4 separate regions of the Homo sapiens genome follow, and all the other regions are linked to region 1. Evidence: fine-mapped expression QTL. A gene starts in region 1. Each other region holds a variant in brackets. All regions are shown on one strand. Distances are from middle to middle.

What was found.
Region 2: its variant is fine-mapped to the expression of SMPD3 in esophagus mucosa (GTEx, PIP above 0.99).
Region 3: its variant is fine-mapped to the expression of SMPD3 in pancreas (GTEx, PIP 0.94).
Region 4: its variant is fine-mapped to the expression of SMPD3 in thyroid (GTEx, PIP above 0.99). The same link has a PIP of 0.9 or more in tibial nerve.

Annotation. Positions count from the first base shown.
Region 1 is chr16:68,444,997-68,452,473 of GRCh38, forward strand. SMPD3 (sphingomyelin phosphodiesterase 3) reads right to left here and starts at 3,512. Exons shown (of 9, transcript NM_018667.4): 1 at 3,357-3,512. It overlaps LOC124903705 (a long non-coding RNA gene), which reads left to right and starts at 3,844. Exons shown (of 2, transcript XR_007065097.1): 1 at 3,844-4,070; 2 at 4,169-7,149. RefSeq lists a silencer at 3,210-3,729 and an enhancer at 3,830-3,879.
Region 2 is chr16:68,421,302-68,428,778 of GRCh38, forward strand. The region is part of intron 1 of SMPD3 (sphingomyelin phosphodiesterase 3); the gene reads right to left. Among named protein-coding and RNA genes, the nearest start is that of SMPD3, 23 kb to the right of the region's middle. The variant A/G (reference allele first, on the strand shown) is at 2,098.
Region 3 is chr16:68,412,720-68,420,196 of GRCh38, forward strand. The region is part of intron 1 of SMPD3 (sphingomyelin phosphodiesterase 3); the gene reads right to left. Among named protein-coding and RNA genes, the nearest start is that of SMPD3, 32 kb to the right of the region's middle. The variant C/G (reference allele first, on the strand shown) is at 3,840.
Region 4 is chr16:68,358,893-68,366,369 of GRCh38, forward strand. It overlaps SMPD3 (sphingomyelin phosphodiesterase 3), which reads right to left. Exons shown (of 9, transcript NM_018667.4): 4 at 6,125-6,200; 5 at 5,859-6,014; 6 at 4,885-4,974; 7 at 4,604-4,667; 8 at 2,711-2,867; 9 at 1-2,415. The coding sequence ends at 2,314. It also overlaps a transcript of PRMT7 not described here. Among named protein-coding and RNA genes, the nearest start is that of PRMT7, 52 kb to the left of the region's middle. RefSeq lists enhancers at 3,676-4,488, 4,489-5,300. The variant A/G (reference allele first, on the strand shown) is at 4,100.

The DNA of each region.
Region 1 (7,477 bases):
ACTGCAAGAAATTCCTTCAGAGTAACTCCAGGAGAAGAGACACATGTCACCAGATGGGTATTTAGGACTGAGCATGTCTTATCTCTCTCCCCCACTTCTGTCATTAGGCCTGGAAAGCCGTATTTGCAGCTTTTTGCATTTGGTAATAGCCTCCAGAAGCCTTCATTTTCTGGGCTACATTGTTTTTGAGGAAAAGAGGGCTTGCCTTTGAAAAATGTTATTGACTAATTTAATAATGACAGAAAGAAGAGGATAAATGTGGAACAGGGAAAGAGGAGAAAAGAGTAGTAGAGGTAGAGGTAGAGACAGGAGATGCCTAAATCTCTTTGGCCTTGATAAGTGTTTTCCATGCATTGTCCTTATAAATGGGTTTGATGCCCACCTTCCACTGGTCAGAAACTTGAACAAAGACCTTCAAGCCCTCTTTAAACATTTCCATAGAGGTGAAGACAGCAGCAATTCCATGGCTTGAACTAGCTTGAAAGAACTTCAGACAAGAACATCAACTCAACACTCTGAAGGTAGGAGGGAGCCCCCCAATAGAAAGATTTGTGATTTTACCTGACAATGCTCACACTCACTCTGAGCCTCTACACCATGGGGGAGTGTTAGTTGCCAAATTGTGACTGGTTTAACCTCTTTCCAGCAGAGGTCGCTGTGGACACTGGGAGTGGATACTTGTGGGAACTGGATCAGGCAGCCTGGGCTAGATAGATGGTGGCTACATTGTGTAGTACTTGCTCTTTCTGTTGTTCTCCTGGCCATCATCTGGTCTCTCATCCTATGGGAAGTAGATCTCTGTGAAGATTATCTCAAAGCTGCACAGTACCTTTGCTATGCAAGTGCTGTGAAATCAGGGTCACTTATTGGGGAGGGCAGGTCTGGGAGGGGCATGCTTATCCTCTAGGGGTATCACCTTGTAGTGTATGTCTGTGTTACCCTTGTTTCCTCTCTGAGGAAACAGTATTTCTGAGACACCTAGTATTTCTGAGACACTGCCTGTGACTGACCAGCAACGTCAGCGCCATGCCCTTCCAGACATGGAGGCCAAAGTGACAAAAGTTGCCTTGCAACGTAGTCCTGCACCCACATCATAAGTGACTCTGTTGATGAGTCCCCTGCCAAGCCTCACTTGGAAACACATGGTGGTGGTGAGGGGGCAGAATTCTGGTCTTTGGAGCAGCCTATTACAGTAGGATAAAGCTTCTGATAAAATGGGAAGGGCAGGGCACTGGTGAGTATGTCAGGGTCAGACCTGAGACCTCAGAAGGGCTGAAGAAGGCTCCACATAGTTGTGAATTCCCCACTTACTGGGCCTTTCGCAGGCCAGGCAGGCTAGGCACAAAGCAACCTGAAGCTACCTTCACCCTGAGGGCATCCACTCGGACCCTAGGTCATTGCTGTGGCTTGAGAGTTAAAGATGTGACTACCCTGCTCCCCACCCCCACAACATCCAAGCCCATCAGTAAATGAGTAAGTGGTTCATCTACACACACACACACACACACACACACACACACACACAGCCCGAAGCGCAAGCTCTGGCCGTGCCACACACATGAAGACTGAAACACACATGGGTACATTCATCTAGTCACACACATTCACACCCACACTCTGACCCACACCATCATCCATGCAAACCCTCACACACTTAAACACATCCCCTCCCCAGAACCAAATTTGACCTAACATGGCTGATGGGGCGTGGGAGGGTCCAGTCAGGATGTCCCTCTGGACCCTGGCCCACTCACGCCCTGTGAACTCCAGGCCCCTTGCTCAAGGTGGAGCCCCCACCTGTCCCTGTCCTAGTGGTCACAGGTCCTGAACACCCCCACTCTCGGCCCCCGAAGGGGCCCTGGTCACCATCGCGTGCACAGAATCCTGGGTGCCTGGCTGGCCTTAGGGTAGGGGGTATGGGAAAAGGGAAAGATGTGGGGGCATAGTGCCCTGCCCTGGCTCAGCCGCCTCCTCCCTCGGGATTTTCCATCCCGGCTCGCGCGGGCCCGCTAGAAGCCGGTGCGCTTTGTCTCCCGCCCCGCTCCTGGCACGTTTCCGTGGAAGCTGCCCGCGCCGCGCCCGAAGCCCCCCCTCCGCGGCCGCGCCCCCCGCCCAGCCCGCGGCGCAGGCCTGCCAGTGCGGCGACCGCCGCTTTGTCCTCTCGAGGATGCCTGGGCCGAGCGCGAAAGCCCCATGCCTTGGAACAGCCACCGCGCGTCCTGGAAGCAGGTCCCCGAGCCTCGGTTTGGGGTGCGCCCTGCATCGGAGCGGAGCAGCCCCCAAAGATTCGCGGGCACGAGGTTGGGGGTAGCGTCTACCTGGAGCTCTTGAGTGCTTGAGGGGAGACCCGCCCCGTCCCGCTCTGTACATGCCCATCTGGGATTGGCCCCCAGCTGCGGTGCCAGAGGCTCGGTCCCCGGGGCGTGGTGGGCTAGGGCGGGTCGTCTCGACTTAGAGCCCCAGGCCTGGATCCAGGTAGGGAGGGCCTGGGAGATAAGGCCCAGGTGGGGAGAGGTGGGGAGGGGTCCCTCCTGTCCTCGTACATCCCCCTACACTACCTCTCACACCCAGGCCACCCAACCCTCGGCGCGGGCCCGAGCGCGGGGGATTCCGAGTGTCAGTGCTTTCCTCCACCCGCGACTCCGAGAAGGATGGGGAGGGGTCTCCCAGCGTTTCCCTGCCACATTCCAATTCCACCCTTCACCAGTAACCTAGGAGGGTCCAAGTGGGAGGGGTAAGAGTCCTCTGTCTCTTCCACATCCTCGATCCTCCTCTTTACAAAACCCTAGGGCCAAGGGAGGAGGGGGGAATAGGGAGGGGGGCGAGTGTGGAGGAAGGGGCCTGGGCAAGGGTCTTCCCTGCATCCCAAGCAGCCCTTCCTGAATACCCCTGGGAGGGTCTGGGCTAGGGGAGCGGTCCGCGATCTCATCCATCACCACCAGACTCCTTTGTAACCTCGAGCAGCCGAAGTGTTGCGGGGAGGGGTCCCCCTGCCTCGAGTCCCTTCATCCCACAACACCTCATCCTCCCGTCCTGAGTAATCCGAGCAGCCCCGTCGCCAGGCACAGCGGGAGGGAGGGTCCAAGCCTCCTCGCTCTCCCAGGAGAGATGGGGGGTGGGGGTGACCCCCAGCCCTCGCCCCTCATACCCAAGAGCCTTCTCCATGATAAAACGAAAACTAACCCAAGCTGCTCCGACCTCCGGCGCCCGGCCACGGGAGGCCCCTAGTCAGTCGGCGGCTGTCCGGGACCCGCGGTCCTGAGAGCAACGAGAACACGTCCCGTCAACTCCCCAGCCCCTCACGCCTCGGTTCGCCCGCTCCCCAAGAAAACAAAAGCGAATTCAGCAGCACTGACCTCTGACGGCGGGCGGGAGGGCGGTCAGCGCCCGGCAGCGCACCCCGCTCCTCCCGGCTCCTCACAGCCCGGGCTCCCGGCCGCAGATCTGGCGGCGGCCGCAGCGGCGGCGGCTCTCGCGGCTCTCGGGTCCGGAGCCTCCCTCAGACTCAGCACCTGGAGCGGCGAACAGCTCCGCGCTTCATTCCTCTGACCCCGCCTCCCTCGCGCCGCCGGAGCCAATGGTGACCCGGACCCCGCCCAGGAGTCTGCCCATTGGGGGCGTCCTCCCCTCTCCCTCCGGCCCCGCCCGCAGGTTCCTGGGTCTCTCCTTCAAGACCACATCCCCCAGAGACCGGCGGAGTTTCGCACAGCCTTCTGGGACTTATAGTTCTTTAAGGACGCGGAGTGGGCTCACGCCGCGGGTAGGCAAACAGAGCGGGACTGCATTTCCCAGAGTGCACTGAAGACACGGAGGCGCGGAGCAGGGCGGGAGGACCGTTTCCATAGCAAAGACGACCAGCCGAGGATGGCTGGCGGAGGCGTGGGGCAGGCCGCAGGACCCTCGAAGGATCGTGTGAGACCCCGGGCAGCCTCTTGGGAGGCCATTTCGAGGAGAAAACCTTGATTTCTGCCTCAGGACCCTGGGCCTCAGTTTTCCTATCTGAGAAGAAGGGCGAAGAGCTGTGCCCCCGACCACACCCGTCGGTGATGGGGCAAACCGAGGGCAAGCAGGTTTGGTTCCTGCCCAGCAAAGGTGAGGGAGGACGGAGGAGACTCTCCCACCGCATTCAGAACTTTATTCCTTTATTTTTGTCTCAATCTTGTCATAGAGGAGCGCTTCACTTTTGGTCATCCCTTGGGCCACCAGGGCCTTCCCGTCTCCGTCTTCCCATCGCAGGTCCTGGCCTCCTTCACACCACTCCAGGATACCGCAGCATCTCCCCCAGCGCAGCAGACGGAGGGCGCTTCACATGCCCCCGGACCTAAGCCCACTCTCCCCTTCAAGATCTGGACTCCACTTTTTTGCAACACTCTTAACTTCTTTGGAAGCTGGGAAGCCTCCTACTCCCTTGGGCCTCTCCACCCTGCCCTCAGCTAACTCGTCGGCAAGCCCCAGCCTAGACATTGCCTGTTTTGTGAAGACATCTAGATGCTGGGCTGTCTGTTGAGTGCCCCACCCTGTGTTTGAGCAGCACCCTCTACTTCCCCTGTTCTACTTGCATGTTTATGTGCTCGTCTTCCTCATTATAAGATCCACAGGGGAGGGGCCATGTCTATATTATTCATACTTACAGTCCAGTGTCTAGTATCTGGCACGTAGTAGGCACTCACTAGCTATTGAGATATAAATATAGATATTTGTTGAATTGAAAATGAATTGGGCCGGGCGTGGTGGCTCACGCCTGTAATCCCAGAACTTTGGGAGGCCGAGGCAGGTGGATCACTAGGTCAGGAGTTCGAGACAAGTCTGACCAAAATGGTGAAACCCAGTCTCTACTAAAAATACAAAAATTAGCTGGGCGTGGTGGCACGTGCCTGTAATCCCAGCTATTCAGGAGGCTGAGGCGGGAGAATCGCTTGAACCCCGGGAGGTGGAGGTTGCAGTGAGTCGAGATTGCACCACTACACTCCAGCCTGGACAACAGAGTGAGACCCTGTCTCAAAAAAAAAAAAAAAAAAAGAGAAAAAGAATAAAATTAAAAAAAAGAAAATAAAGGAACCTCATTCACATACACCTCCAAAACTCTGATTTCCTAAAGTTGGGCATTTCTCATTGCTGGAGGTGTTCAGTTAGAGGCATGCCGCCCCCTTGAAGAAATGTTTATTTCATTTGTACAGTGGGTTGGGATTTTACCTGAATGCTTTGAGTACCCTTTTAATCCTATGATGCTAGAGATTGATAGACCCATGCCTATTATTCCTGTCAGTTCTCCCTGAAATGTCATCAGTTCTTCATGTTCCGCTATTTCTAGCTGTTGGCCCTACTCGTTTCTGTGCCTAAATGCCCTACCTCCCACTCCTTTTCTGAGAAAGATCTTCTGCCCTGTCAGTTATGAAGTAAAGATGTCCTAAGATTCCTGCTCTTTCTTTTTTCTTTCTTTCTTTCTCTCTCTTTTTTTTTTTTTTCGACGGAGTTTCGCTCTTGTTGCCTGGAGTGCAATGGCTGGAGTGCAATGGCGCGATCTCAGCTCACTGCAGCCTCTGCCACCTAGGCCCACCTTGGTCTCCCCAAGTGCTGGCATTACAGGTGTGAGCCACTGTGCCCGGCCTCCTGCTCTTCTTTCAACCCTCTGCTCAGCATCTTAGGCCTCATTGGTGATGTCCCACCTTGCTAGGTAGCATCTTTCCTGAATATTTCTCCACTAAACATTCTGATGTTGGCTAGATGGCCTAGTTAATCTACACATTTCATTTTATCACCTTCTCCAGATGTTTTTTTGTGTATGTCAGCTGATACACTCTGGGGAGAATGCCTTAATATATGGGAATAATTAACTCATGGCCAAGAAGGAAATAACCAAGGGGACTTTTACTCTGGACCTAATTCAAACCAAAGAGACAGAGCCTGAGAGAAAGCAGCTCTGTCATCCTTGAGTTAGTAACATCCAGGAAGGGAAGGCTAGGGTGGGGGAGTGAGTAAAACAGATGGCATTTAGGGAAGAACCAACAGGACTTTAAGAGGCATGGCAGAGGGGCTTTGATCCTGGCTAAACCATCAGGGAAGGCAATTGGAGCTGGGTGAACAGATGGGGTCTTATTACTGAAGAGAAAACGGTAAGGAGGCAGGGGGAAATGGGACGTGTGCTAAAGCAGAGTGCCTCATTCAGTGGATGCAGTGAGAGCAGAGGCTGTTGGAAAAGTGGATCAGGGAGGACCATGCCACCAGGTGGGCATCAGCAGAGTATCACCCGAGTATTGCAGAGGGATACCAAATAAGTCCACCTGAAGCCAGAGCTGAAACCCTGTGGAGGTCCGTTTACCCCTTCAGAAGTAGTGTACCACCATCCATCTACCACTGGAATCCAATTTCAGTTTTGGCAAATTGTTATAAATAGGAAAAAGTCAGGGTTCCACAATTCTGGCAGCACCCAGAGACTATAACAGCATCTGCACAGCCAAGTAGAGTTAGGAAACCTGGATCCTAATCCTGACTTTGCCTCTGATTAGATGTGTGATCCTGGGCTGGAGCTGTTTTTTCAGTTGTAAAATGCTGTTTATTGGTGTTAGGTAGCAGCTAATAAGGCTGGAGGTGGGGCTGGGTGTAGTGGCTCACACATGTAATCTCAGCAGTTTGACAGGCCAAGGCAGGAGGATTGCTGGAGGCCAGGGATTTGAGACCAGCTTGGGCTACATAGTGAGACTCTGCCTGTACTAAAAATTAAAAAAAAAAAAAATAACTCAGTGCAGTGGCGCATGCCTGTAGTCCCAGCTACTCAGGAGGTTGGGGTGGGAGGGTTGCTTGAGCCCAGGAGTTTGAGGCTGCAGTGAACTATGATCAATCACACCACTGCATTCTAGTAGCCTGAGTGACAGAGCAAGACCTGTCTCTAAAAAAAAAGAAATTTTTTTTAAGGGTGGAGGTAGGGAAATTCAAAGCTACTTACTAGCTGTGTGACCTTGCCTAAACTACCTCCTTGGATTTGCAGTCTGTTTATTTGAAAATGTCATAAGGGATAAATGAGATTCCTTATGTAAAGTACTTTATAAATATTAAGCACTTACCAAATGTTAGTCTGTTTTCACATTATTCTTCTTGGATTACCAGAAATTGGTTTGACCATGAATAAACAGGAGATAATTTCTTGGGTAATCTGAGTTTGAATCCCCTTTCTCTCTCTTACTAATTGTATGACTTTGATTAGGTTATTTAATATTTAATTGTTCTGGGTCTCAGTTTTCTCATTTGTGAAATTAAAATGTGTTCTTCAGAATTGTGAGGGTTAAATGTGATAAAAGGCCTGACTCATATGAGAAAATGCTCAATATATTTGTTTTGTCATTTTTAAGGGGTGGTTTTAGGGCACAGAACCCTAAAGGAATGAATGGAATTCTAAATACTTCGAAGCTAGAGTAGTGAAAGATTCCAGGGGAACACAGTGCTGGCCTTCTCCCTTCTTCTTGGGGAAGAAAAGATCTCA
Region 2 (7,477 bases), 24 kb before region 1:
CTCTGTCTGGCGCTTGTGGGGAATGGCAGAGACTGTGTAACTCAAGGTAAAGAGCTTGAACCTCCACCCAAGGATGAGGGGGAGCCACAAAAGGGAGAGACGTGGTTATATGTGTGCTTTGGAATGACAGCACAGGAAGATAGGTATGTGGGGTGGGGGATGAAGAGACCAGAGGCAATGGAGCCAAAGCCAGCATGGCAATGAGCCAGGGGGACAGACTTATGACCAACCTGGCAGTGTTTGTGCAAACCACTCCCCCAGTACACCTGAAGAAGCCATGTCCAGTAAAACAATTAAGTCCAAGCCCCACTCCCTCACTCTACCACCTCCCAGACACATCTCTTTGACTTGGCTAGGGAATGAGGCCTGATACTCATAGCTCGGCCTCCATTCCTAGCCATTGACATTCCAGGGCACCATTGAGTTCGACCCATTAAAGAGTCTAGGGGTGGGCATTGTTTTTCTTCCCTACTTGCTTGATGAAACCAAGGCTTAGGGGTCCAGTGGCCTGCCTATTAGACTTGGTAGTAGCCCCTGAAAGATGTCCATATCCTAATCTCCAGAACTGGTGAATATGCTACTCTATGTGGCAAAAGGAACTTTGCAGATGTGATTAAGTCAAGCATCTTGAGATGGGGAGAGAAGCCTGGATTATCCAGATAGGCCCAACGTAACGACAAGGATCCTTTTGAGAGGGAAGCAAGACCGCTGAAGGTGGAAGAAGAGGATGACAAGGAAGCAGAGGCTGAAGCTTTGAAAATGGAGGAAGGAGCAAGGAGCCAAGGAATATAGGCAGGCTCTAGAAGTTAGAAGGAAACAGATTCTCCCCTAGAGCTTCCCGAAGGAACACCAGCCTGCTGATGCTTTGATTTTAGCTCAGTGAAATTGATTTTGGGTTTCTGACCTCCAAAACTGTAAGATAACATATTCCTCAGCATCACCAAACTACAGCAGAAATCCTCAGAAGGAGGTGGAATTTATCCTAGGTGAGGAAATATTGTGATTCTGCAGAGGCCCTCATGGAATCTGAATTAACCTCTTCCCTTGCCCAGAACTGGGAAAGCCATGGATGTTGGGCCTGGTTCTCATTTTGCTGTGATCTGGGCAGGTGCTTGGACAAGATAGACGTATAAGGCCCCTGAGCAAGAAGCTGGAAGAATGTGCAGGAAACAGAGTATAGTAAAGTGCTCAGAGGGAGGAAAAGAAGGTTTTGCTGTTGTTGAAATAAAAAACAGTACAGGCCCAGCTGCTTGGAGGCCTCCAGTCAGGTGAGAACTGGTGGTGAAGAATTCCACCTCCCACTGAGGGGTTGTTTAGTTTGATGATGCTGAGGGTTTGGAGAAAAGGGGAGGGAATTTTCTCCTTAGCCACAGATCTGAGATGACTGCAAATTGCTTCCCATGCAGTCTCCTTATTTTAACCTCCAGGGAATAGTGGGCGAGTTTCTGCCTCCCCTGGGTGTACCTGCTGCAGAGAAAGAGGTGGCGTGTAGGCTGCTGGGAGATTCTGGGCTGGGCTGCACTGGTTCCTTCGTTAAAGTGAGGAGGTTAATGTGAGGATCTCTGAGGTCCTTTTCAGCTAGAATATTGGAGTCTCCTTGAAAAGCACCAGTTTCCTTAACCATTGAACACATATACAGCCCCAGCCTGATTTAGAGGATTTTAGTTGTAATGGTAAACCTTTCCACAGTTCTCAGCGGGGGCTTCACAGTCATTTTCAAAGTTATTAGCTCAGTGATCTTCACAACAACCTAAGAGACAGGCACTGGTATTACCTTATTTTACAGCTGAGGAAACTAAGGCTCAAAGAGGTGAAGTAATTGGTTCAAGTTAGCATCAGAGTCAGGATTTTGACCAAGGTTTTCTGGCCTCCTTGTCACCTCCTTTATGGCACAAAAGGGATCTCAAAGATCATTCCCTTCTTGTGACCTTGCTCTGAGTAGCTGAAGATGCTTCCTGGGATTCCTCAGAGAGTTACTTACTAGCTGCTATGGTTTGAATGTGTCCCCCAAATTTCTTGTGTTAGAAACCTAATCTCCAAATTCATATATTGATGGCATTTGGAGGTGAGGCCTATGGGTGGTAATTAGGATTAGTT[A/G]AGGTAGTTAGGGTGGGGATCCATGATGGGGCTGGCGGCTTTATAAGAGGAAGAGAGATCTGAGCTGGCATACTCTCTATCTCTCTCCATCTTCTACCATATTATGACACAGAAAGAAGACCCTCATCAGATGCGACCCCCTTGATCTTGGACTTCCCAGCCTCCAGAACTGTAAGAAATACATTTCTTGTCTTTCTAAATTACCCAGTCTCAGGTGTCCTGTTACAGCAATAGAAAATGAACTAAGACACCAGCAAACTGGGTTGAGTCTTTTTCTTCCTACTGGTCTTGTTCCTGAACCCCAGATCTCTGCTTCAGGCTTAGCCAAGGAGCTTAGGACCACCTCATTTTTTACCCACCAGCAGGTACTTCCTAAGCTTGGCACTATTCCAGACCCCGTGGGGCACTCTGAGCATGAAAGAACAGACTGGCACAAGTGAAACAAGTTATGGAGGCTGATGTGGGTGGTTCTGGACCCCAGCAGTGGCTGAGGAGGCGGTGATGTCACCCAGCAGAGCAGTGCTGGGGAGATGGAAGGTCTGGAGGCCTCAGTGGCGGTGAACAGTCCACAGTGAGGGTGGACATGGCCCAAGGTGACCAAGGGCTCGGCCTGGGGACGTCACCTGCCCAGTCAGGCCCTCCCTGCACAAAGCCCAAGGAGTTAGCCAATGGCCAGGGCAGTCTTAGCCAGGGGGCCTAGGTGGTCCTAGGGTGCCAGAGGGTCCTAGGCCCCCTGGCTAAGCCTGCCCTGGTCACTGGCTGTGGGAACAACAGTTTCTCCTGAATCCTCTCTTTGGCCAGGAGTACTGCCATGTCCTTACTCCTGTGTATACATGGCAGGATGTAATTATCCTAAAGATACCATCTTGAAGCTTTGAATCCTGAACTCCCAGCCCCAGCATTAAGTCTGCCTTCTGCCTTCTTCACTTGCCCCTCCACAATGGGGCTGCAGGGGCCGTAGGGGGAATAAGCATCAGCAGAGACCCTTGTGACTCCTGGGCACTGCCTGCAGAGCTTTGGTCCTGTGTGCAAGGGCCTGTGGATCATGGTCGAACAGTCAGACCCTCAAGTCATGTTGGGCCTGACTCCACAGTGACCTGGGAAAAGTAATTTTACTTATGAACCCCAATTCTCACATCTGTAAAATGGAGGTAATCATAGTAGCTGCATCATACAACAGCTGAGGGGATGAAATGGGAGAATCCACACAGAATGGTTCAGCGCCACGCCAGGCATCAGCAAAGTTACTGTCTTGATGACTCTATTCTCTTGCAAAGTTACTGTCTTCATGACTCTATTATAAACCAGAAGAATGTTTTCTCTTTTTTTTGAGATGGGGTCTCACTCTGTGACCCAGGCTGGAGTGCAGTGGCATGATCTCAGTTCACTGCAACCTCCGCCTCCTGGGCTCAAGTGATCCTCCCACCTTAGCTTCCTGAGTAGCTGGGATTACAGGTGCACATCACCATGCCTGGCTAATTTTTTGTATTTTTGGTAGAGACAGGGTTTCACCAAGTTGCTCAGGCTGGTCTTGAACTCCTGGTCTCAAGTGATCTGCCCACCTTGGCCTCCCAAAATGCTGCGATTGCTGGTATAAGCCACTGCGCCTGGCTATATTATAAACCAGAAGAATGTTCTTAAGAAAACAGTCCCTAATAAAAGATGCAGAAACCTCCTCCCAGGAAGATGTGGAAGAGAGGCCTGGGCCTCAGCTGATGGGATGGTGCCTGTGGGTTGGTAGTCATGGCACTCACTCCCACTTATCAGATAGTAGGGCTTACAAGGGCCAGAATTAGAACCTCTGGCTTTAGACCTTTGGTTGTCAATTCTCTGTATATGGGAAATCAAAACAGAACTTCATGGATGTCTCTGGAGGTGCACCGAAGTCAAGGCTGGAACTGGTGAGGGAGAATCTTTCCTATTCAAAAGAAATAGACTGCTTGGGATGGGTGAAGGCAGGGGCAAGAGCCCTGCATGCCAAGAGGGTCTCCTCCAGCTGGATGGTTCCAAGGTTTCACATGAATAATCAGTAGGAGGGAGCGAAGGGGCCCAGCTTCCTCATCTCTTGGAGAGGGTCTTTGGCTTTTGCAGAGTGACAGCCACAGGAGGCAAACTCCACTGGATGCCATGAGGACAATGGGTGGGGGGGCGGGCCCTAAGGAGCCAGAGTCAGAAGAAGGATGGGCAGAAACCAAGGAGGCTGTGATGACAGGGGCAGGGAGGTGGCAGCGCCATGGGACACATCAATGCTGACCCTAAGCTCTTCAGATTGCTGTTAGCACTGTGAGGCAATAAGGATGGGTGAATCTGCAGGCTGGGAGGGTGGTGGGATACTCAGCAAGATATCCGGCCTCGGGCCAGCCCAGGCTGGGGCTGGGTGGTGGGGATCTGGAGAACAAGCACTCCCTGCTGAAAGAGAGGGAGAGGTGTGCCACCCAGAAGGAACAACACCTGGGTTTGTCAGCCCTCCTCCCTTGCACTATGCCGCGAGGAAGTCAATCACATGTGTGTCTCTGAGGTGACAATGTACCCCCAGCACAGAGGATTCCATGTGGAGGATGCTAAGGGAGCACTGAGAGTGGATTTGCTTAAAAAGAAGCAGGGATCCCTAGTGCTGATGATGGGCTAGATTTTCCTCAAGGAAAATAAACTTCAGACTTAAGACACAACAAAGGTGAAAATAAAATAGAGGCTCTATTTTAGCCATCTTATCTACTACAGTATCAATAATCCTGTTCCACTTTTGCAAGATGCATAGCATAGTTCTAAATAGGACGTTTACATGATCAGGTATCTAGTCAACATTTGAACGGAGAATCTACTAAGGCTTAATGTAGAACCAAGCCCCACGGATGTCAGACACAGGTGTACCCACAAGGAAATGAATGTTGATTCAATAACCTTATTTGATCTTTGACAACCCCATTTATTATGTCATTATGGGGACTGGAGACTGGAGGAAGAGAAAACAAAGAGTGGTGAGCTGGCTCACCCTGGTCACACTGACAACCAGTTCATGACCATGTCAAGAAGCTTCTGTGGGTCTCCCCACAGTGGCCTGGAGCTGACTCCTGGCTGACCTAGTAGCTTGTCCCTACTGCTTGGCCTCCATAAAAGTGACTCATTGATGAAAGTTGCCAGGGGGAGCTACTGAATATCTGAAGGAGAGACATGCTTCTGAAAACTGTGAAACAATGAAAAGCTCTTAACAATTGATTTAAAATCAATATGGTGTGGAAATAGCACCCAAAATAGAAATATCCTCAAGAGGCCAAGGGATAGATGTACATTCGTCATTGCTGTTTCTGTCACTGCACTCATTTTCCAACCCTGACTGTGTGTACACATGTAAATATTTCATACGGATTCAGCCTCACACTGGGCTGTTCAACTTTTTATTAATAACAAGAATAATAATAACCTCATTTGTGGAGTGCTTCTTTCTGCCAGCTACTTTAAATTTACTCATTTAATCCTGCCATCAATCCACGTAGGTCAATATGGTTATTCCCATTTTACAGATGAGGAGACTGAGGCTTCCTAGGTCCACTCAGCAGCCTATTTTAAATCAGAGATTTAAACTCAGGTCTATCTTTTTTTTTTTTTTTTTTTTTTTGAGACAGAGTCTTGCTCTGTCACCCAGGCTGGAGTGCAGTGGTGAGATCTCGGCTCACTGCAACCTCCACCTCCGGGGTTCGAGCGGTTCTCCTGCCTTAGCCTCCCAAGTAGCTGGGATTACAGGAGTGTGCCACCATGCCTGGCTAACTTTTGTATTTTCAGATACAAAAGAGACAGGGTTTCACCACGTTGGCCAGGCTCGTCTCAAACTCCTGACCTCATGTGACCCACCTGCCTCAGCCTCCCAAAGTGCTGGGATTAAGGCGTGAGCCACCATGCCCAGCCTTAAACTAAGGTCTATCTGATTTCAGAGATGATCTTACCACTTTTCTGTATCGTCAAACTTGCCAGACGGCAAGGAAGAACTGGGAGGAATAATGAATGCATCTAGTGAAAGAATTGGGACCCTAAGACATCTGGAGGCTCTGGCAGCAACTGTCCAACAGAACTTTCTGCAGTGATGGAAATGTTTTGTTTCGACACTGTCCAATATGGTAGCCTGTAGCCACACATGGTTATCAGGCACTTGAAATGTGGCTTGGGTGACTGAGAAACTGAATTTTTAATTTAATCTTATTTATTTATATTTAAATAGTTACACATTGCTAGAGGCTCCCATACCGGACAGCACAACCCTAGTGCTATGGGCAGAAGTCAACAAGATGATTCTGGGTTGAGAACTGTGTAACATCTAACATTTGGGTCACAGGAGTGGGATGGGGAGTTAAAAATGACTGGGGGGGGGTGCTGATGCATTGTGAGCAGTCACCTCCAAATGTGGGAGCTGAAACATCGAATCAGAGAAAGGAAGGAGGAAGGGAGTGGGCAGGACAGAGGGGACGGGAGGAGCTTGGCAAGCGGGGGCAGGTACAAGACAGGTTCACCTGAGGATCCAGTCCCTTGTTCCCTGTGCTCGAGACCCAGAAATGCAAAGGAAAGATGAAGACTTCAGAGAGGGGAGGGTCTCATGCCACTTAGTGGATCTACCCACAGGGAAGCATCTTCCTGTGCCTCTGTCAGCTTCTTAGACTTCCCATGAGCTATGTCCACCTTCATCCACACCCCATTTCTATGTTTGCTTTGGAGTGTCTGAGCAGCCAAGGCCTCATCCTTGGAGCAGGGAAGTAAACATCATGGAGACAAACTCACTTGACTTCACTTAGAGAGGCTAATGACCCAAGATTTTCCAGCTCAAAGGCCCTGTGAGCATCTCCCAAGAAGATATGGCCATGGTAAAAAGACATTAGGAAGCAGAGGGCAATAAACCGTGTATGATCAGAAAGAGTAGGACAAATCCTTGACTAGTGTGCCAGAGGCAACGCTTTGAACAGAAGAGCCACACAGGCTGCCTCAAACAGCCACTCCACCCTGGTTTACAAATTGAATGCATCCTTCACCCCGCTCCTGCCCCATTCTGCAGATTTGCAGGGAGCAGGAGCAGCAGCAGAAGGGCCTGGGCAGCTTGCTCCAGAAGGGACTTCTCATCCTGGATTTTCAAAGGGGAGGGTGGGTTTATCCCTTTGTCCTCATACTGTCTTGAGTCTGGACTTCAAAACGTAAGAGGTAAATAGGAGAACCGGTCACAGAGAGAAAAGGGCTTCCCAGGAAGTCATGCTGGGAACTGGAACATCTAACCCCCTATTTTCCATGTCTGATAAAGAAAGAGAAAAAGTGAGCTTGGGATGTTTGCAAGAGGCAGTCCCTAAGGTCCCCAGATCACAGAACCCTCTGTCGATACCTGAACTAGGGGCTGGAGGAGGTC
Region 3 (7,477 bases), 32 kb before region 1:
CCCACTCAAGATAGACATTCTGTGATTCCCATATTTTCATAATGAGGCTCCCCAAGTTATCAAGACATTGTAAAATAATATTCCATCTTCATTGCTTAGGAAGGCAGGGTAGTGTATGGTAGATGTTAGAGGAATATGCTGTGCTTTTAAAAGTTGGGCATTTGAAGAGGGGATGGAAGAACATTTTTTGAGTACCTGCTACATACACACCATCTTAAACATGTTAACCTCCTAACAATCCTACAAGTAACTATTATCTATGTCATTTTATAGAAAAGAAAACAGACTTAGAGAGCTGAAGTGATGTATCCCAGCTCATGCCGCTAATGCTTTTTTCTTTTCACCCTTGGCGTGGCTCAAGTCCTTGGCCTGGGGCCTATGTGGAATGCCTGCTCTTTGACACCAGGTGAATGAGGCTTTGCTGGATGCACAGGGCCTGAGTTTCGGTGATGTTTTCCAGGGTGGTGGTGATGGCTGTCACTGTCCCATCAGCTCACTGTGGGGACCGATTTTCTGCCCTGGCCTCCATAGCTTTGGCCACTCTGAGAGGCGAAGGCCCTTCTTCTGCCTCTGCTCCAGGATAAAGCTCCCCTTTCCACATGGGAAAGCATGAGCTGTGAAGCCTTGCAGCTGGAAGATAGCTGCAAGATAGCTGGTCTATCCAACAGGAGGTCTCCATCATGAGGAAGGGACTGGCTCACCTGGAAGATAGTTTTGTGAACCCTGTCCTCCAGAGAAAATTATCCCTCAAGGCCTTTGATGATGAGAGGCTCTGTTTTTTCATTCCTTAATCATTCAGAAAACATAGAAAATCATTCAGCTTATTCAAAATAGTGGAAAATCATTGAGGTTTTTTCCTGTGTAAAGGTCAAACTATAAAAAGATATATGGACTCAGAACTCCAGGCTAGTCATGAAAACGTGGCAGTGCATTGAAATGGATCCAAAAAATGGTCTAATCCTCCTCTGGAAACAGCTCATAATAATCCCCTCTCCACTCTCCCCTCTGTGTGTTAAATTCCTGTTTGTAGGTTCAAGGACATGAAATCAGTGATTTTAATGGGTAGAGCATGGGCTGTACAGAGCAGGAGTCCTGGATCAGAATCCCTGACCAGCTGCTACACACCAAATATAAAACCTGGCATGCTCTGGTGCTGTTCTGGTGCTCTCCTGAAGGGCCTGGGGCACCTCCTGTCAAGGTCTGGGTGGGTGGACACTCAGAACCTTCTCACCATCCTAGCTGTGACTTTCCACCTGAGGTGTGGACAGATGAAGGTTGGCCCGCTGGCTATACAGAGTCTGAGGATGGCGCTGCCAGACTATGGTAGAGACAGATTCCCTGCTCTGGTCTCTGTCCCCACCTCAGCCACCCAACTCTGTTCCCATAGTCTAACAGGGCTAGGCTGAGTATAGGCTTGGGTGACCTGTGAAGTCCTTCCAGCTGGAAGATAAATAACTTCAAGATGGCTATTTCGACATTTTAAAAGGGCACTTGGAATTTCACTGCTTTTGTGAAGCTGAGCAAGAGAAGGGAGGACAATAGGATATTTTGAAAACAGCCTAGAGAGTAAAAGCCTCACTTTCCTCTTTATTAATTCAGAACTTGGAGGAAATCTGTGAAAGTATCTTTCGGAATGTAAGAAATGTCTGTGACCCTTCTTTAGCAAGGCTTGACCCGGGCTCAATTATGTGCAGTCCCACCTGTGGGGTAGGCTCAGCCTGGTCTCTCCCACACTGGGCCACCCACTGGAGGATAGAGGAGGGGGTTTGGGAGATGGAGTCAGTCCTAATGCTAGGTCTGGCAGTCAGATTTCCTGGTGGGAGACTCTGGGCCTGGGAGGCCTCTAAGCCCCACAGGTAGGAGCCAGTCTTCATGTCCTGGTTTGTGTCCAAGCAGGAACAGAAGGAATGGCATGCACAAAGACTTGTAGGGGAAAGTGCTGGCTCTTGGCTCTGGCCAACAGGGCATGGCATGAGATGAGGAAGGCTGGCAGCAGCCAGATCCTGCAGACATCAGATTGAGTGGCATGCCCTGATTTGTGTTCTACAAAGGCCACATGGGCTGCCGGGAGGGGAAGGCTCAGAGGCAGCAGGGCCAGGTAGGAGGTGGCCTTGGTCACCCAGGGACATGGTGACAGAAGGCAGGAGATGATGAATCTGGAAGACTGACGGACCAATGGCTGGTGTGACAGTGACAGTGAGAGGGAGTGGGCCTAGCAGGGGGTCTTTCAGGCCTCTGACCTATGCATTGGGTGGATGCTGAGGCCTCATCTGAGACGGAATGGGTGCTGTGGGTTTGGGCATCTATGATGAGTCAGAGATGCGCAGGTGACAACTAAGGTGGCTGGCGGACATCCAGGTGGATCCATGAGAACATGGGCCATAAACTGTGCCATTAGGGAGAAACTCAAGCCAGAGACTGAAAGGTAGGCAAGGGCATCCTACAGGTAACGCCCAGAGAGTGGATAAAATCCCATGGGGAGAGTTCAGAGTGAGACCCAAAGAGGGCCAGGAAGAAGCTCCTGGAGTCCCTGACATTTGGGTTTGTGGAGAAACCCAAGGAGTGGGCAGAGAGGTGGCTAGAGAGCGTGGAGTGGGTCCCTGAGGCAAGAGTCCTTGGGGGTCAGGCAGTAAGGGGATGCCTGAGAGGCCGGGCTCATCACTGGGTCAAACTGTGGGGAATTCTGCCCGTTCAGCAATGCTGAGGGTCTAGCTGCAGTTTGAGCCAACTCTGCAGTTTTGCAGATGGTTTGTTTTCCTGGACAGAAGGTTCAAAGCAGGCTTCCCAGGCATTTTCAGGAGATCTGTCTACGGAAACGTTAACCTACGGCTTAAAATTTCTTTCTTCCAGTACCTTTTAAATTTAGGTAACCTGAAAAGTGTAACCATGACTACTGTGTTTGTATTATTTTAATATTGACTTTTAAAAATATAGCAAAAATATATATAGCGGATGCTTATTTTAAATGTTAACATGAGGTTCTATTTTACTATTCATTATACTCTTCAGATGAAGAATCTAATTTAAAAAGATCTACAAATTTCATATGTAATTTGCAGACTCTTGAAGAGTCTACCTCTTCAGCTTTTTTTTTTTTTTTTTAGGTTACAAGAGACTTGTCCTAGACCCTTAGGTATTTAATGTGACATATTCTGCCTCACAAAGTAAAAGAGAAAGGGCAGTTTTTGGCTCCTTTACAAACAGCTTTGCCCCCAGATGTGTCCAACGGCCTGATTTAGTATTAAAGCTCTGAAATGATTGATTATCCATTAGGGTAGCTATTTAAAGAGTTCATCACATCAGATTCAAACCGACAACATCTGCGCTGCAAGGGCTGCTGGAAGAGCCAGGCAGAACCAAATGGAAACCTGGATGGAACTGTGGATTCTGCCTCCTGCAAGACTCTGAGACCAGACCTCTATGAAGGACAGTAACAGGTTGCTGCTGCCACTGTGCCCGTAATCAGGTGTGTGCCAGCGCTTCCTGCTGGGCCCAGGCCAGGGAGAACTCCTGTGAATGAAAACTGACATGGGTCATAGCTCAGAGCCCGACCCTTTCCCCTGCTCTAGGCCTCGCCCTCTTCCCTGGTCTCCCCATTGTTCCCTGTGAGCCCCTTCCCATCTCCCTCTCTCTGGGGCCTCCGACCCTGAGTTGTCCCAGGCTTCTACTTCCCGTCCCACTCTTCCCTCCACAAATCATTGCCACCGCCCAGCTGGGTTTCTCCCTAATCCCTCCTACCCTCCTGTCCAGAATGTTACCGGCAAACCTTACACAATCTAAGGCCGTTGTTGTCTTCTAACCCTAGCAGTTTCCCTCTTAACAGCAACATCAAACTTGTT[C/G]CCTTATTCTGCCTCGTCCTTGTATGCTCAGCAAACAGTTTACCTTGGCAGGTTCACCAGGAAGTAACAATACTGCTAAAGCCAGGTGCTTTGTGGCGCTTTTATTTCTGAAGCTGTGTGAATGTAGGTAGGTGTGCCTTAGGTGAGTGTTTAATAGTTTCCAGGCTGAAGTTGTTGTCACCCATGCAGCCACTGGGGCTTCAAGCCCTATCTGTCCGGTGGGTCAGAGCACAGGTGTGTCAGAGCATAGGCCATGCTATATTCCAGGGGCAACTTGGCTGGTCCTGAGGCCTGTCAGGTCTAGGTGGGAGGCCCGTGTCGCTGGAAGATGCCTCAGTCCCAGGAGAGCTCTGTGGCTGGAAAGCTGCTTCCTGATTGCCAGGGCACTCAGTCACAAAAGCTGTACCCAAGGGCTCTTTGGGGTGGCTGCCGTGGTTTCCACTTAGACCCTGTCTTCAGGGCTGGTGCACCCATCCCCTGGGTACTGGGGACATCTCACAGCTGTGTCCCTCCCTAGGCATTGCCCTCAGCTGAGGCAAACTGCCTCACTCAAAATTAAGCCCTTTCTGAATGATTGGCAGATGGGGAGGGGGTACCAAGGCCAGGTCCCTTGGCCCCCATCTGGGACAACTCTGAGGAGCTATCTCAGCTCCTGAGTTCCCTGTAGAACTGCTGAGGTCTCATTTGCACCCACAGTCTGGGTCTGTTTCTCCATCTGCCTGATCCTGCCTTCTTCACTTCCCTGAACTCATCAACAAATTCGCACACACTCAGGGAACCCAGGCTATGACAGCTATCCCGACTCAGCTAAGAGGGGCTGGGTTGATTGATAGCCTCTTACCCCACTCCAGAGCCACTCTGGCCCTGCTATGCTGGGGCTGCTGACAAAGCCCCCTCAATTGTTCTACTGTTACTCTTTTATTGCATTCAAGCCTCCCTAAGGAGCCACTTGAGAGACATTTGTTTATTTTTGAACTTGGACTTAGGAAATATTGTGCTTCTTTTGGCCTTTGGTCTGTGTTTGGATTGTGTTTATGATACAAACACAAACAACTGGGGAAGAGATTGGGCTTTCTTTGCTTTGGCTGCTAGGAAGCTTGGAGACCAGTCCTAGACCTACACGCTACTAGACAAAGATGCTGGTACCTTCAGAGTTCCCTTAACGTGCTTTCCTTGCTATTGTTCTTTGTGTCGTTTTGCTATATCACACAGCTCCGTCTGAGCTGCCTCAAACCCTGCGTGGAATGAAGTAGGGTATAAATGAGTAAACACATACATACAGCCATGGGGGTGTGGTGTCAGACAGACCTGTCTGCCGGTTACCAGCTCTGGGACATTTGCCAAGTTACAACTTCTCTAAGCCCTAGTTTATTCAGCCAAGGAGTGGGCCTGATGCCTGCATCACATAATTATTCTGAAGAAAAATACAACAAGCACATGCCTGGTACATATCAAGTGCTCAATAAATGGTACACATTCATAACAACTTTTTATAAAATCCTGTGCTCTCAAGAAAGTGCCCTATCATGTTGCCGGATCTGCCCCCACTCCCTTCCTGTTGTGTGCGGGCTGTCAGCCAAGGTGCATTTCTGGCTTGTTGGGTTTCACTTTCTCATGGGAGAAAGATGCCTACCCAGGCACCTGCAGCTCACAGCAGACGGTGTGCCGCAGCAGAAGGTCCCGTGTAGATGCCCACCGAGTTCATCCAGGCAGGTAGATACATGACTCAAATACCCACAAGAGAAATGAGCACCTACTTGGCTGGAGGAAAACTAAGACTCTTTATGTAAATGAAGCCTTCATAAAATGAAAAAAAAAAAAAGGTTGTAGATGAGAGATGGGTGATGAGTAATTTAACCAAGACGATGCAAATCTAGGCCTTTGAATACTTTAAATATAACCATCTGATATAAAAAGAATTGCACTAAATTTTTTAAAGTAGAGAGCTTTCCTAGGGTGAGAGACTCACTTTCCTGATAGGGACATATTCCCCAAAAGGCAAATGGGGAAGGCAAAGAACAACATCCATGTTGACATCACATCCCCCTGCAGGCAGCAGAGGAGGATTCAATGCATTTTATAGTCTACACTAGCACCCCATATACCACACGTTACCTTGCAAACCAGTTTGGATCCCATATGAGAACAGGGATGCCCATTTCAAAGGGGAGGTAGCTTGGGAAACTCTTTTGTTCATTTCTAAAGTAAGCCTGCCCCTGGCTCTGTCTCCTTGTAAATGTCAGGTGGGCCTGAACCATAGTCTTGAGCTTGTCTAAAGATGGGTCTGGACTTTCTTGTCCTTTTGGGTGATGAGAAGGCCAGAGCAGGGAACCTTCTGTATGCTGGGTCTAGAATGGGTCTGCTAGATGTATCCTCCTAGAGGGGAGAAAGGGATGGTGTGAGTGCAGGATGCTGAGGAAGGGGTCAAGGACAGGATGGAGAGAGTGTGGCATGAGGGCAAAGCTGGGTACAGGGCAGGCCCCAGTATGGTCTATTTGTAGAAATAGGCCTCAGGAGAGGTGAGAGGGATGAAGAAGTAGTGGCTAGGGGCCACAGCTAGTATCTGGCTGGGCTGTCTAGTCCTGGAGGGGTAAGGGATGCTGGACCATACCCTCTAAGGCTGGTTTAGGAGGGTCGGGGGGTCTTGGAGGAAGCTGCCCAGAGCAGCTATGGCCACCAATGAGACAGGAAGAAGTCAAGGTTGATGGCGCTTGAGCCAGGGTCCCACTGCAGGGACTGGCTGAAGTTCTGGAACATGCATTGAGCACATTAACAAGACTGAGGATTTTGTGTCAGGTCTCTGGAACCTTCCTTTGGGGGATCAGCCAGTGCGGGAGAAACAGGTGATGGCTGGGTGGCCAGGAATCTACTGCCCTATCACCCACAGGCAGCTCATTGTATATCACATGTGGGGACAATGTCCCCCTCAACGCCTAGCCAGAGGGATGGGGCAGGATGGGGATGCAGCATCCAACATCTGTTGACTGTCTTTCCTCAAATCCTGTTACACATTTCCTTGCATCTCCAGAGTTTTGGTAAGAGAAAAACCATGTACTTCACCTCTATCTTGACAACAATAACTTTCCTCCCTTCCTATGGAAGATAGAGAGAACCCTCCTCACCTCCAACATAGCACAGATGCCCCAGGGCCCAGCTTCCATGAACCCCATGTAATGATGATGATGAAGATGACAACCATAATGAAGCCTTACTCCTAAAATGAGTATAATGACACTAATGATAAAGGCAGCATCAGAGAGTGGGGGAGAGAACAGACTTTGAAGCCAGACTGCCTGAGTTCCAGCTCCACCTATCACTAATTGTGGGAACTTGGAGGTCACTTTGTTCTTGGGCTCCCTCATCTGTAAAGTGGGGATCAGAGTAGCTGATTATTGGAACATGTAGTATCCCGAATAGCTATTGCTTTTTTTTTTTTTTTTTTAAGAGATAGTGTCTTTCTTGTCACATGGCCTGGAGTGCAGTGGTGTGATCTTGGCTCACTGCAGCCTCAACCTCCTAGGCTCAAGCAATCCTCCCACCTGTCTCCCAAGTAGCTGAGACCACAGGCATGCACAGGTTTTGCCATGTTGGCCAGGCTGGTACCGAACTCCTGACCTCAGGTGATCCATCTGCCTCAG
Region 4 (7,477 bases), 86 kb before region 1:
ACAATGAGACACGTGGGTGGGGGGGTCCCGGTCTTGGTGCTGAGGGAGGTGTGCGGGGGCCTGGGGGCCGCACATCCTTACTCTGGACCCCAGGACCTGACTAGGCAGAGGCGACCTTGTGATGACAGAAAATGACTTGCCTAAGGCCGCCTGTGAGGTGGGAGGGGAGGAGCATGCAGCCCTGACTCCCACGCCTGCTGCCCCGGGAGGGGGTGCCTGGGTGGGGAAGCTATGTTGGGGTCTGGTGTGGGGGCCCTGCCCGGGCCTCAACTGCTCTCCCTGTGCAGGCAGTCGGCAGGCGGCTCGGGGTCTAGGGGTCCAGGGCCGGCCGGCCCAGTCGCTTGTGTGAGCAGAGTACCAGCTGCTTCTGGAAGTTGGGGGCCTCCACATCATGAATCCCAGTCAAGGCTCACAGGCCAGCCCCTTGGAGGGGTGGGCCGGGCAGAGAGCCCAGCAGGATGCTCGCCCTCAGCAGCCCCTTCCTGGCTCTGGACTCTGGAGGGGCAGGGCTTGGGCCCGGGCAGACGGTGCTTCCCAGGCCAGGTGAGTTCAGACAGGCCAGTGTCACAAGGACGCACGTCCTAGCGCCAGGCTCCCTGGGCTCTGCAGCGTTGTCTGCCCCAGCACAGGGCCAGGCATCTGGCTGGCTGCGTGGCCCCCTCTTGGTCCCTCTTGCAGCTCAATGGGTGACAAGGCACAGCATCAGGGCACCAGCACCAGGAGGGGCTGACAGCAGACAGCAGGTCCTGGTGCTCCCTCCAGCCTCACCAGGCAAAGCCGGCCCTGGGCCAGGCTGGGTGTAGGGCCAGGGCGCCACGAGGAGCGGAGGTCAGCGGGGATTGTCAAAAACAGTCCCTCAAGTTGAGTCTCGAACTTTGAAACAGACAAAACCTTCGCTGCATGACAGGAGCAGCCCTGGAGTCTCTTAAAGGCAGGTGGGCAGAGGCAGTGCTGCCGAAGGGGCCTGGGGGCTGTAGGCATCTTGGGGCTGGAGGCAGATCGGGGACCACAAGCTGTTGGCCAGCTCTGCCATGCTGAACTTGGGTGCCAGTACCACACCCTGCCCTGGGCATGCAGCAACTGTCAGCCTTGCTGCCCCAGCTTGCGCACTGGTGAGGGCCAGGCTGCTCTCTGCACCTTGGCTTCCTGCCTCCTAGGCCGGGGTCCCCTTGTGGCCTTGGTGTTGGCTGGGGTAGCTGTTGAGGATGGGCCTGGGAGGCCAGAGCCGCAGCCCCACCCGGGGGGCAGGCAGGGGTTCCTGAGCTCAGCCGGCACGCAGGTGGGGCACGTCCCCAGGGAGGGATTGGTCCCGAACCAGAGAGGTGTCCCGTGGGGGAGAGGATTGGCAGAAAGAAGAGGATGTGTTGGTTTTGATAGAAGAGAAGCTACAAATAGATTATTTTCAAAATCAGGATCCCCCCCACCCCCGTTTATGCTGTGAGTCCCTTCTTCCTGTAAAAAAAAAAGTGGATACTCTCTTCTCGGATCCCCGTTTATGGCTCCACTGCCCAGATGGGAGGCTCCCGGAGGAGGCCCAGGGTGCCAGAGCCTGCCAGACTCTGTTGTGCCTGAGCTGGGGAAGGGACCCTGTCTCGGGAAGAGCAAAGTTCTATGAGTGACTTACAGACCCTGTGAAGTGAGGGTTGGTTTTGTGATTAACCTTTTTCTGTTTTTCTTTTTAAAATGTAATTGCCCTTGAATGCGAGACCCTGGGAAGAGCCCTGGGCTGGCTGGTAGAGATGCAGCCCTCGGACCCTGCAGGAGCCGGCCCACACTGGAGGCGGGAGAGCTGGTGGCCGTGCCCAGGAAGTGCTTCTTTGGCTGGTTCTGATTGTGTTTGGAGTTTGGCCTTGGGTGAGGCCCGAGCAAGGGGTCTGTGGCTACAGCGTGGCACGTGGCATGCGGGCAGCGTGCATGCGAGGGTGCAGGCATGCGAGACGACATTGGCAGCAGACAAAAATAAAGAACCCTGGACGAAGCTTAAGAGGAGATACAGAGAGTACACGAACCCGGTCCTCATACTAACCCACGGGTTACAAACTCGGTTGTGCTGTAGATTTGTAGAAAATCGTGTTGTGAAAGAATGGCACTGGTTAGGCAGCTGGAGGCTCCTGGGGCGGGCCTGACTCCTCTGTCCACAGTGAGGCCCAGAGGCGCAGAGCAGCGCAGCTTCCAGGTTCCCGGGCACTGACTGTGGCTCCCTCCCTGTCCCTGCCCTCCTCCCCCAAGCACCGGGCACTCGATGGAGGGGACATGGCCCAGGGATGGGCTGCAGCTGCAAGGGCTGGCAGAGGCCCCGCTGCTCCGGACGGTCTATGCCTCCTCCTCCCCCGAAGACACCATCAGTCGCATGGCTACTGGCAGGTGGTCCGTCAGGCCGGACAGCTGGGTGATAAAACTGAATTCTTCCACCTCCTGGGGTGAGTGGGAGAGGGGAGAAACAGCCTGGTCAGATTCCAAGGGCATCTTGCAGGGAGCGGCCTGGGGATCCCCAAAGTGAGGCCCCGGGGCTGGGGTGGGCTGGGACCTTCCTGCAGTCAGAGGGATGGGGCCTGGAGGACCTGGGGCCCTAAGGGTCTGAGGGAGTGATGGGTATCATTGTAAGAGTGGCCTGGGGCGTGGGGTTTCAGGGAGCGGCTGTCGAGAGCTGCAGGGCCCGGGCCCTGCTCTCTCTTTGCATGGCCCTGGCTGCTGGGCCCTCCTGACTCACGGCCTTCCAGTCTGGGCACAGCCCCTCCTCTGCATGCAGCATGTAGTCGATGCGCCGGCCGTTGCCCTTCAGCAGCTCCTTCCGCCCCTTCTGGCCCGAGCTCTTGCTGGTGGGAAACGCCAGGTACTCCCTGCGGCCCTCCTCACTCTCCAGGACCCTGTCCACACATGCAGGAGGCAGGTGGGCCCCCATGCCCGCCCCTGTGGGCCTGGCAGGGGCTGTGTGTGGAGCCATGGTCTCCTCCCAGTGTGGGAGCGGGTGGGTGGGACCAAAGCGCTGGGTTTAAGATCTCTCCCCTGCGGGTCCAAAAAGGGCCTCAGCTGGGGGTAGGCCGAGTTGCCTGTGGGTTCCTGGCTGAATCTGGGCTCCGGAGCCCGTCGAAGTGTTCTGTCCGCCCCAGCCTGGCCAGCACTCACTTTCCCTTTCTGAACTCGGACAGAACTGATCCCACCCGTTCCCCAGAATGGGCTTCTGCCCTGAGCCAACAGGGGCCTGTTTTGAGGAGCTTGGTCTTTGCCATGAGTCTCGGGGACCCTTGTGACTGTTCCCAGGTTGACAGGAGCTGAGGGAGCCAGGAGAGCACCTCTGAGGAGTCTCAAATGGGGCTGTCCCTACGTGGCTGTGTGACTCTGCTTATGTTACCAAGCCTCCAAGCCTCTGTTTCCTCCTCTGAAACAAGAATGGTTGCTGTGGGCCCCAAGACGCTTCAGGGAACAGGCTGTCATCCCGCTTCTGAGTGAGGAAACCCATGATGGTGCTAGGGGATCCACAGGGAGGGCAGGGCGCTGGAGCAGGGGGATGTGACATCTGGAATCCCTTTCTGGCACTGTTGCCCTGAGACAAGCAGTATGCCCGTCTGCTTCCTGCCAGCCTGTCCCCTGGGGCCTCAGCACCACTGGGCCAGAGGCTTAGGACCCCCTCCTGGGAGCCCCCATTGCAGAGGGCAGGCTGGGGCCAGGGCCTGGGATGGCAAGTGCAGTGGTGAGAGACCCTGCAAAGGCCGCCAGGTCTGTGAGTGCCTGGACGGATGCAAAAGGGGCACCCGGCGAGGCAGGGCCTGCAAACATGGGCTTCCACAAGGTTTTCATCAGCCTTAAGATAAATACACTAATGACATTCAGGACATTGTTACAGCTCAGAAATGGAATCCATCACTGTCCTTTGCCCTTGATAATTAATTCCAGCATCAATGATCTGAGAGCTACTGGTAGTCATTTTTAAATCATCATCTCATAAAAAGAATTTTCTCAGCATAGGATGATGTTTCAAATTTAGTCTATAATCTAATTAATTGGCTCAAATTAGCTGCAAGGAACCATCGCTGTGACTGCAGTCTCGGGCTGTGAATTATAAATTGGTTCTGCTGTTGGCCTCTCAGATGTGTTCTTT[A/G]TGGACATCTTACTGGGCTCAAGAATGAATTTTGGCTGGGATGGAACTGTCTCTACTTTGAAAATGGTCGGCTGTGTTATTGCAGCTGGTGTCTGTATTTGCCTGATTGGTGCTGCAAGCTGCCAGGCTGCCTTCAGCAGGCGCCGTACCCAGCAGCTCTTTCATGGGGGTCGACCTGTGGCCTGGCCCGGGGGAAATTCCAGGCCCTTTCCTGTACCCAGCAGGCAGGGGCTCGGGGCAGGGCTAGCTCCTGAAAACAGGTTTGGGAAATACCCCTAGAGATTTAGCAAGGCCAGTACCCCTGGGCGTGAGGGCGTGAGGTCTACCTGCCTGGCCCAGCTCCCAGCTCTCAAAAGCTCTCAAAGGTGAGATGAGGGACAGGTTTCTGCCAAATAAAAGCCCTCATGAGCCCGAGCTGAGCTCTCCCATGTGGGTCCTGCCCAGTCCCTGTCTCCACCTTAGTCAGGGTGTGCCTCGTCCCTGGCCTGGGAGCGCAGTGCTTACTTCTGCAGGTTGTCGGGGGTGCACACATCCTCATCGTACAGGCCGTTCGTGTCCAGCAGAGTACCTGGGGGGGACGAGGGGGTGACAGTGGTCGCTGCAGGCAGGGCCCAGGCAGCCTCTAGGGGGTGGCCTCTGTGGGTGGACACGGGCTTCTGCTAGCCAGGGGCAGCTGAATGGGGCCCTTCCCCAGCAGTGGGGTCTTGTGGGGTAGGTCCTGGTGATCTTTGAGGGAAGTCTGTGGGGAGCCCAGCTCCCATCCTCCTCCCCCAGCCCCAGCTCACCGATGGCCCACGGCTTCTCCTCACCAGGCCCCAGGCGGCAGGGGTCCCTGTAGTGGGTGAACAGGGAGTGTTGCTGCTCCAGCTTGTCGTCTGTGCGGGGAGGGAGGAAACGCTGAGGCACCAGGGGGCTTTGCTGTCCCACACGGCCTGTGCCCCTGCTTCCCATCAGTTACTCCCCATGTGCTGCCAGGCCCCCATCCCTTAGGCCACTGCCCCTGGGTGGGATCTCAGTCCCATTCAGGTGCCCCGTGCTTCATTTGTCGCTGCTTTTCTGTGTCCTTGAGAACACCTCCCCCAGCACACGCCCTGATCTTCAGCATTCCCTCTGAGGACAGTGACAGTGACCACGGTCCTCGGACAGAGGAAGGAAGGTCCCCACAAGGTCCATGTGGTCATCGGATCCACAGATCAGTTATTTACAGCAAGTGTTTGCTGTTTCACTGATGACGAGCTTGTAGTCTTTCACCCTAATGGTTTAAGGTGCAATTCCCAGGGTTCAGATCCCAGTGCAATCACTGCCTGGCTATGTGACCTTGGGCTGGTTCTCCAGCCTCTCTGAGTCTCAGCTTCCTCCACCACACCACGTGGAGACATGCAATGCTTCCCTCTCAGGGTTGTTAAGACACTTAAGTGAAACAGCGATAGAATGGCAGCTGGCTCGAAGCAAGAGCGCGGCGCCCCGTTGATGGGTGTTACTAGTGGACTCGTCCTTTGTCTGCTTCAGAGGCCCCCAGCCTTCCTTGTCAGAGGTTCGTTTTTAGGGCATCTCTGTCTCCAGCTTTCTAGGCAGAGCGTGGGCTCTTCCTGTTCTAGGATTTCTAGGGGGCAGAGAAATCAGTCTTGCTAAATACCCCGCCCACATGCTCTCGAGGAGCAGGAATTCTTTGAGCTGCCTAACGAAGTCTGTCTAGCTGTGACTGAGCCCACAGCCTCCCCAGAGCTGGAGACCTGAGTGGGGAGGAGCCCGGCCTCACCAGAGGAGCAGTTATCAAAGTTGAAATCTCCACAGACGACGTCAAATGCCACCAGCTCCTCGGGGTTGGCTGCGCTGGACGAGGAGGTAGATTTTCGGAAATCAGCCAGCCAGTCCTGAAGCAGGTCCAGCTGCCCACACCGGATGGCGCTGTCCTCTGCAGGGCAGAAGTACAGAGACTGGATGATGAAGTTCGCCCCAGACCCCAGCTAGGCCCCAGGCACTGATCCCATGCCTAGAAAAAACACAGGTGGGCGGCAACCCTACCTTGCGGGGCATGCAGGTGTGTGCAGGCGATGTACCCGACGATTCTTTGGTCCTGAGGTGTGCTTCCCACCTGCACCTGGGGGAGGAGGGGGTCAGTGCTGCCACCTGCCAGTCACTGTGGCCCTGAGAGCACAGGACACTGGCAGTGCCCACCCACCCATGAGGTCAGACCCTCACAAGCCTGGCTCCTGGCTGGATTCTGGGGTCCGAGTAGGGACAGGATGTGTCCTGCTTCTAGGGACTTACGGATCTGGGCCAGAGGCGGGTGCTGAAAGAAACTATTGGCCTGTGGCGTGGGGAGTGCTGGCGGCCATCTGTGCAAAGCATGGGGGAAGTGCCGAACCGCAGCAAGGCTCCCCGGAGGCCCAGGCCCTGCCATCTCCCAGTGACCAGCGTGGCCACGGCTCTCAGTTCCTTGTCCAGTCCTGTCTGTGGCTCTTTCCTCCCTCCCTCAGTTACACCCTAGACCTGGTCACACCCTGGTGCTTTCTCCCCCTGAAATCTCAGGGGGTTGCCCCTGTGCCATGGCGTGGCCTCAGAGCCCACCCCACACAGCAAGAGGCCCAGACCCTGCCCCTCCTGGCCTCGTCGCCTTCTGGCTGCATGGTGAGTCATCTGCTTTATAGGCCGTGGTCCCGTTGTCACCCGTCTTGGATGAGAGCTCCCTGACCTGTGTCCTAGGCTGGCCCCTGCACACCCCTGGCTCCATCCTGAGCCCACTGTGGCAGCATCCTCTTCAGGTCTCCCCTCTGCCCCGACCTCCTGCTTACCTCCTTTACCCAAGACGGAGCAGGTGACCCTGGCAGGATCCCAAAGGCTGGCTTAATACAAATTAGCATCTCCACTGTACCCTGCAGGCAATTCATAACTGCCCTACCCCAGGTGGGGGCAAGATGGAGCCCTTGTCAGTGCTCAGCCCAGGAGAGGTGAGGGATGGCCACAGAGATGCCCTGCACAGAGAGGCCGCTTACCAGCTCCTCATCCCCTGCCCCTGGGATTCCTTCCCTCCTGTGCCTCTGTACCCTCCCCAAGCCATGCAAATCCATTCCAGACTGAGTTTCCCAAGATGAGGAGACCCCAGACCCAAAAAGCACTCCAGGGAGGTGGCTGGGCAGGACACACTGCCTCTCCCAGTTGTTGGCTGAGGGCAGAGGGCCGCAGGGTGGGTGCCCCACATCTGTGGAGCTCACAGCAGCCCAAACGTCACAGCCCATCTGCTCCAACAGCCTCGGCAGGCTCCGTCCTTCCTTCACTGCTGCAGTCGGTCAGGCTGGTATTATCTCCTCCATCTGGACGTCCTCAGCAGCAGGTGCCCCTGGCTTTCTACAGCTCTTCATCCCCTTCCCAGCCCTA